2 linked regions of the Homo sapiens genome follow. The protein of the gene in region 1 interacts with the protein of each later gene in a pairwise test. Each region holds a gene or a part of one and is shown in the gene's direction. Other genes may lie near its edges.

Region 1 (3,500 bases):
GGGTGACAAATATTCATGCATTTATTCAAGTATTTACTGAGTACCTGCTCTTTGCAAGTCATAATTCTAAACACTATGGAAACAGGAGAGAATATGATAGCCATGTTCGGCCTGGGGAGACAGATACCAAATAACTAATTACACATTATTTTTTTTAATTTTTTTGTTTTTTGAAACAGTCTTGCTCTTTTGCCCGGGCTGCAACCTCTACCTCCCTGGTTCAAGCAATTGTCCTGCCTCAGTCTCTTGAGTAACTGGAACTACAGCCACAGGCCACCATGCCCATCTATTTTTTTTTTTTTTTTTTGAGACAGAGTCTCGCTCTGTCGCCCAGGCTGGAGTGCAGTGGAGCGATCTCGGCTCACTGAAAGCTCCACCTCCTGGATGCACGCCACTCTCCTGCCTCAGCCTCCCGAGTAGCTGGGACTACAGGCGCCCGCCACCACGGCCAGCTAATTTTTTTGTATTTTTAGTAGAGACGGGGTTTCACCATGTTAGCCAGGATGGTCTCAATCTCCTGACCTCGTAATCTGCTCTCCTCGGCCACCCAAAGTGCCGGGATTACAGGTGTGAGCCACCGCGCCTGGCCTAATTTTTGTTTTGTTTTGTTTTTGAGATGGAGTCGCACTCTGTCACCCAGGCTGAAGTGCAGTGGTGCGATCTCAGCTCACTGCAACCTCCACCTCCCGGATTTAAGCAATTCTTGTGCCTCAGCCTCCCAAGTATCTGGGATTACAGGTTTCACCATGTTGGCCAGGCTGGTCTTGAACTCCTGGCTTCAAGTGAGCCACCCGCCTCGGCCTCCCAAAGTGCTAGAATTACAGGCATGAGCCACCGTGCCTGGCCCTAATTTTTGTATTTTTAGTAGAGATGGGGTTTTGCCAGGCTGCCAAGGCTGGTCTTGAACTCCTGGCCTTGAGTGATCCACCTGCCTTCCAGAGTGCTGGATTACAGGCATGGGCCACCGCACCCAGCCAACTAATTACACATTTATTTAATTACAGTTGGATAAGTGCTTTAAAAAGGTGGCTAGAATACCTTGACATAGATCGAGGGCAGTTAACAGAGTCTGGGAAAGTTGAGTTTGAGCTGAACTTTGGAAGAACGAACAGGAATTTAATAGGCCAAGAGGGATGGGGTGGATGGGATGAGGAAAAGCGAGCGGTGCATTCCAACTAGAGAGAACAGCATGTGGAAAGCCAAATGGCAGGAGGAGCACAGGCCAGTTTGAGGCAGTGCGAGGAGGCCAGTATGGGCAAAGCAGAGCACAAAGGGAGACTGACATGAGTTCAGGCTGGTGTGAGGTAAGCAAGGGCCAGAAAGCGCAGAACATCTTCAGAGCAGTAGGAAGTGACCAGAAGGTTATAAGCGGGAGAGTGACTTGATTAGGTTTGCATTTTTTATTTTTGTGTTTGTTTTTGTTTTTGTTTTTTTGAGTCAGTGTCTTGCTCTGTCATCCAGGCTGGAGTGCATTGGCGTGATCTCGGCTCACTGAAATGTCCACCTCCCAGGTTCAAGGGATTTTTGTGCCCCAGCCTCCCAAGTAGCTGGGATTACAGGCATGTGCACCAAGCCTGGCTAAGTTTTTGTATTTTTGGTAGAGACAGAGTTTCACCATGTTGCCCAGGCTGGTCTTGAACTCCTCAGCTCAGCTGATGCGCCCACCTGGGCCTCCCAAAGTGCTGGGATTACAGGCATGAGCCACCGTGCCTGGCCAGGTTTGCATTTTTTAAAAAGGACATTCTGGCTACTATATGGAAGTAGATTGGAAGTGTTATGTGTATAATAGAGGATACCAGGAGACTATTTGTAATTTGAGGACAAAGAGCTTGGAGGCAGAGATGGAAAATAAAAGAAAGGGGCCCGTCTTAGTGGCTCATGCCAGTAATCCCAGCACTTTGGGAGATCAAGGCGGGCGGATCACCTGAGGCCAGGAGTTCAAGACCAGTCTGGCCAAAATGGTGAAACCCTGTGTCTACTAAAAATACAAAAATTAGTCGGGTGTGGTGGCGCGCGCCTGTGGTCCCAGCTACTCCAGAGGCTGAGGCAGGAGAATCACTTGAACCCAGGAGGTGGAGGCTGCAGTGAGCCAAGATCGTGCCACTGCACTCCAGCCTGGGCAACAGAGCCAGACTCCGTCTCAAAAAACAAAAAAGGAAAAGAAAGGGAAGAGCTTTTTTTTTTTTTTTTGGAGACAGAGTCTCGCTCTGTCACCAGGCTGGAGTGCAGTAGTGCAGTCTTGGCTCACTGCAACCTCTGCCTCCCAGGTTCAAGTGATTCTCCTGCCTCAGCCTCCTGAATAGCTGGGATTACAGGTACGTGCCACCACACCTGGCTAATTTTTATATTTTTAGTAGAAACAGGCTTTCACCATGTTGGCCAGGCTGGTCTCGAACTCCTGACCTCGTGATCCACCCGCCTCAACCTCCCAAAGTGCTGGGATTACAGGCTTGAGCCACCACACCTGACGGGAAGAGCTTATTTATAAAGGAAGGTCACTGAAGGCGAAAAGGGTGGGATAGCCATGCAGAAATGGAAAGGTTTTGTAGAGAAAGAGTTAAGCATGGCCTGTCATGAGAGAACTGATCCATCCTGTCACAGATAAATCCAGAGGTTCAGAGGAAGGAAAACTGAGCTGCACTTTATTTTTTGTTTGTTTGTTTGTTTGTTTGAGATGGAGTCTCACTGTGTCGCCCAGGCTGGAGTGCAGTGGTGCGATCTCGGCTCACTGCAAACTCCGCCTCCCAGGTTCATGCCATTCTCCTGCCTCAGCCTCCTGAGTAGCTGGGAGTACAGGCGCCCGCCATCGCACCTGGCTAATTTTTTGTATTTTTAGTAGAGACGGGGTTTCACCATGTTAGCCAGGATGGTCTCAATCTCCTGACCTCGTGATCTGCTCTCCTCGGCCTCCCAAAGTGCTGGGATTACAGGTGTGAGCCACCATGCCTGGCCATTTGTTTGTTTTTGAGACAGGGACTTGCTCTATTGCCCAGGCTGGAGTGCAGTGGCTCAATCACGGCTCACTGCAACCTCTGCCTCCTGGATTCAAGTGATTCTCATGCCTCAGCCTCCCAAGTAGCTGGGATTAGAGATGCCCACCGTCACACTAGGCTAATTTTCATATTTTTAATAGAGATGGAGGTCTCGCCATGTTGGCCAGGCTGGTCTTGAACTCCTGGCCTTGAGTGATCCACCCCCTTGGCCTCCCAAAGTGCTGGGATTGCAGGCGTGAGCCACCATGTCCGGCCTGAACTGCACTTTAAAAGGAGCTGTAAGGCCTATGCATAGTCAGTCCTGTGATTGTTTCTCTCTCTTCCCTAGGTATTGAAAACCTTCCCTTTGAATTACAGAGAAACTTTCAGCTCATGAGGGACCTAGACCAAAGAACAGAGGGTATGTATAGAGTAAAAAGTTTTTGTATCTAATGAGTGTGTGTAATCATTTATTTTTCTACTTGATGTTACCGTATCATCTGGTATGATCTGGAGAACTGTGGCTTC
Region 2 (3,500 bases), on another chromosome or scaffold:
GCAGAGGCCAAGGGAGGTTATCACTTGGAGGCAGTTTTACGTGGTAAATTCGACTTTATTGAGAGGTCAGAGTTTGCATCTAGGCTTTGGGCAAATTATAGAACATCCCTAAACTTCAGTTTTGTCATCTTTGAAGCAGAAATGGTGATGCTTATAGGTTGGGGGTGAGGGTTCAGTGAGATATTCCAGGTAGGTTCCTGAACACAGTGTATGGCACATACTAAGCTAGGAATATATAGTATTGCCTATTTTTGTTACCTAAGGTCAGATCCAAGTTTGGAAACTATGTCTGCCTCATTCCAAGCTCACGTTCTTTCCACCCTACCTCTCTGCCTCCCAAGTACGCAGCTGAGTACATGAAAAGACAGACGGCTTGCACCATGAAAGTGGAGGGCATAGCAGGGCTTTGGTTAGATGAATGGGTAAATTAAGAACAACGTCATCCAAAGAAGTCATATCTCGAGTTGTTAATTGAAACCTTCACAGGTTGGTCCCAGACATGCCATCTTTATAACAGTAACCAAGCTGAGGGATCCGCTACAAACCAAACTTGTGGGAAGCTTCCTTTGTACAACTAGTCTGAACTGGCACTGTAGAGGTGGTTGAGTGGAGCCGGCCAATCTGAGGGCCTAGCCCAGGACAGGACCAAGAATGGAACATTTTCATTGACTGGGCTTCTTAATGGTTCCTCATTGTTCTGAGGGCAGAAGGAAAGCCCTTTTTTCTCCCAGCAGGCATGGTTGTAATGAGAGCTGGACCTTGTGATCAGTTGGCCATTAAGGTGCCCCAAGGCATGGCCAGCTGCCCAATGGTGCTTTACCAATAACCACAGGCCAAATTCAATGACTATTCTGTCTCTTGGTCACATTTTTCAAAGAGATGGACAATGTGTTCCTAGAATGGCTTGGGCAGAATGGGCCATGTGATTTTGGGAACAAAACTTAGCTAGGCTTTTTGTGCTTTAATCTACACAAGACAATAGTGAGTGACACAAAGTTTTTTGCAGGAACCCCCATTCGCCCACACAGAGCCAGAGAATGACTCATGGCTTAGTGCCCCCTTTCCCAGGGAATACAGATCCTCTCTTGTGTTTTGCAAACAATGGGCCCCCAGCCTCAGAATATTTTGCCTCTTCTTCCAAGTGAAACCTCAACACCTTCAGTGAATTTTGGGTTATTCCAATCCTTCCGTTCATCTTGGTGGGACAGAGGATAGGGTAGAAATGGGGTCTTAGTCAAGATAATTGTGATCCCACTTTCAGCGGTCTTTGGAAGACTTTGAACAAAATTAGCTACTCATGGCAATGTGGCACTTTAAAAATAATTATAATACTAGTCACGGATATCGATTGAGCACAGCCTCTGTATCAGCATAATGCATAGCACCAGATATGTATCATTCATTTAATCCTCACAACATCCCATGAGGTAGATGCTACTTCCTGAAGAGAACTGGAAATGACCACTCTAGGACTTAGCAACTTTGGTTCTAATTCTGTCTCTTTAGTCACCTTGCTACATGACCTTCAACAAATCACATTTTCTTTCTGAGCTTCAGTAGCCTCACCTATAAAATGGAGAAGATAGTACCTGCTGTACCTTCTTTGAAGTTACTATGAAGATTAACACAGGTAATTATTGTGAACAAGGCACCTGTTTAAGCATCTTACACTTTAGGTAGCCCTTGAGGAAACCAGGGCTGACAGAGGTGAAGCTACTTTTCCAAGGAGCACAGCTGGTAGGTAGACCCAAATATTTGAACGCTTATCTGTTTGACCTTTGAAGTCAACCTTCTTAAATAGCAAGTGTGAAAGCACTTTGAAAAAATATCTGAAAAAATGCTGTTACTACTGAGTCTAAGTAAATCACTTTCAAATTTCCTTTAGCTTGGTAATACATATGCCATTTGACTCCTCCCCCTGCCCTAGAGTTTGGAAATATTGAAAATACTCTTTCAATGTTAAGTAAGTATTAGTTGCTTATAGTTGCTTAATCATATTGGTTGAACCCTTTTGGGATGTTTAAAATTTCAAGTCCTCTGAGGCCACAAGGCCCACTAAACGTCATTGTTGAGTGTTAACTGGCCGGGCTGATTCTAGACAGAGGAAGGAGAAAATGAGGAATTTGATTCAAAATCACTTGTTGGCATGAGGAAGCAATCAGATAAGTTTAGATTATGAATCATTATTTAAGACAACAGGCCAGGGATCTTCAAAAATGTCAGTGTCATGAAAGACATGAAAAAGTTTTAAAGCAGGTGAAGGACTCTTCTAGAAAAGAGTACCAAAGCTATGACAACCAAATCCGATGAGAGATTCTTGAGTAGCTCCTGGATGAGGAAAACCATAAATGCTACAAAGGTCATTTGTGAGAAAATTGGAGATATTTGATTGTAGATTGTGTATTAGATAGTATTATTCTATCCATTTCAATGGTATTGGGGTTATGTAAGGAAATGTCCTTTTTCTTGGGAGCTATATGCTGAAATATTAGAAGGGAAGTATCTTGATGTCAGTAAGTAACTTAACTCTCAATTAGGAAAAATAAGGTGAGAACATCTGCAGAAAGAAGAAAGAAAATGCAAAATGTTAACAACTGGTGAATCTAGGCAAAGATATATGTGCACGTCTTTCAACTTTTCTGTAGGTTTGAAATTTTTAAAAACAAAACAAAGTCCTGCCTGAATAGTATTTGTCACCGATGCCCCTGATATTTATGAGAACATAAATGAAATAGGAGTGTGTGTATGTACTCACAATAGCCTGGCCAAATTTGTTTCATGAGGTTTAAGTTCTGGACTCTTTATCTTCTTTCTGGTATAGTGTGAAAACTTTGGCTTAATTCCTTGTTCTTTCATGAGAATGGTTGCTGACATTTTCTGGAAATAAATCACAAGATTCAGTTTCATTTGGTAATCTTTTATAAAAATCTAAGGTGTTTCCAAGGTTGCAAATACAAAATAAATTTTTTAAATGAAGTAATTTTTTAAAAAAAATTTAAAACCTCTGACTGAGCCCTGCTGGTCTAGGCACTGAGAAGGTAAGGAGTATGATTGGAAGCAAGCTTTTCTCTTTTGCCTGACTGAATCCTCCCACACTTTACCCACACAAAATCAGTTTAGTGTTACCTCCTCCAGGAAGCCTTCTGCCACCACCATGGTCCTAATACAGTGTATCTTCTATGTGTTCCATAGCCTGGCCATTAGCCCCTCAGCTTGGACTGCGATTGCTTATTTTGCTGGACCATGACTTCCATGAGGTCAGGGCTGTGTCTCTCCTGATTCCTGCTGGCACAGGATCTATACATAATAAGTTTTTAGTTAATATTTGCAGAAGAAAAGAAGGGTAAGGGGAGATAAAAGAAAGCATTGGAAAACAGTAGTAAATAGATATTGAACTCGAGCTGTGGATGGATCTTGCAGAACTCCCTCTTAGGATGTGAACTGAGAAGGTCATGTGATGGTGGGTGGCCAAGCGTAGGAGACAGAGACACAGAGTGGGC

Evidence for each region.
Region 2: the proteins of ING4 (region 1) and NAV2 interact in binary tests that used the Homo sapiens proteins (3 or more experiments, as listed by UniProt).

What each region holds. Positions count from the first base shown.
Region 1 is NC_000012.12:6,656,620-6,660,119, reverse strand, and holds part of ING4 (inhibitor of growth protein 4), read left to right. Parts: intron 1-3,320; exon of another isoform or gene 3,321-3,321; coding exon 3,322-3,393; intron 3,394-3,500.
Region 2 is NC_000011.10:19,719,337-19,722,836, forward strand, and holds part of NAV2 (neuron navigator 2), read left to right. Parts: intron 1-3,500. UniProt on the Homo sapiens protein: Possesses 3' to 5' helicase activity and exonuclease activity. Involved in neuronal development, specifically in the development of different sensory organs.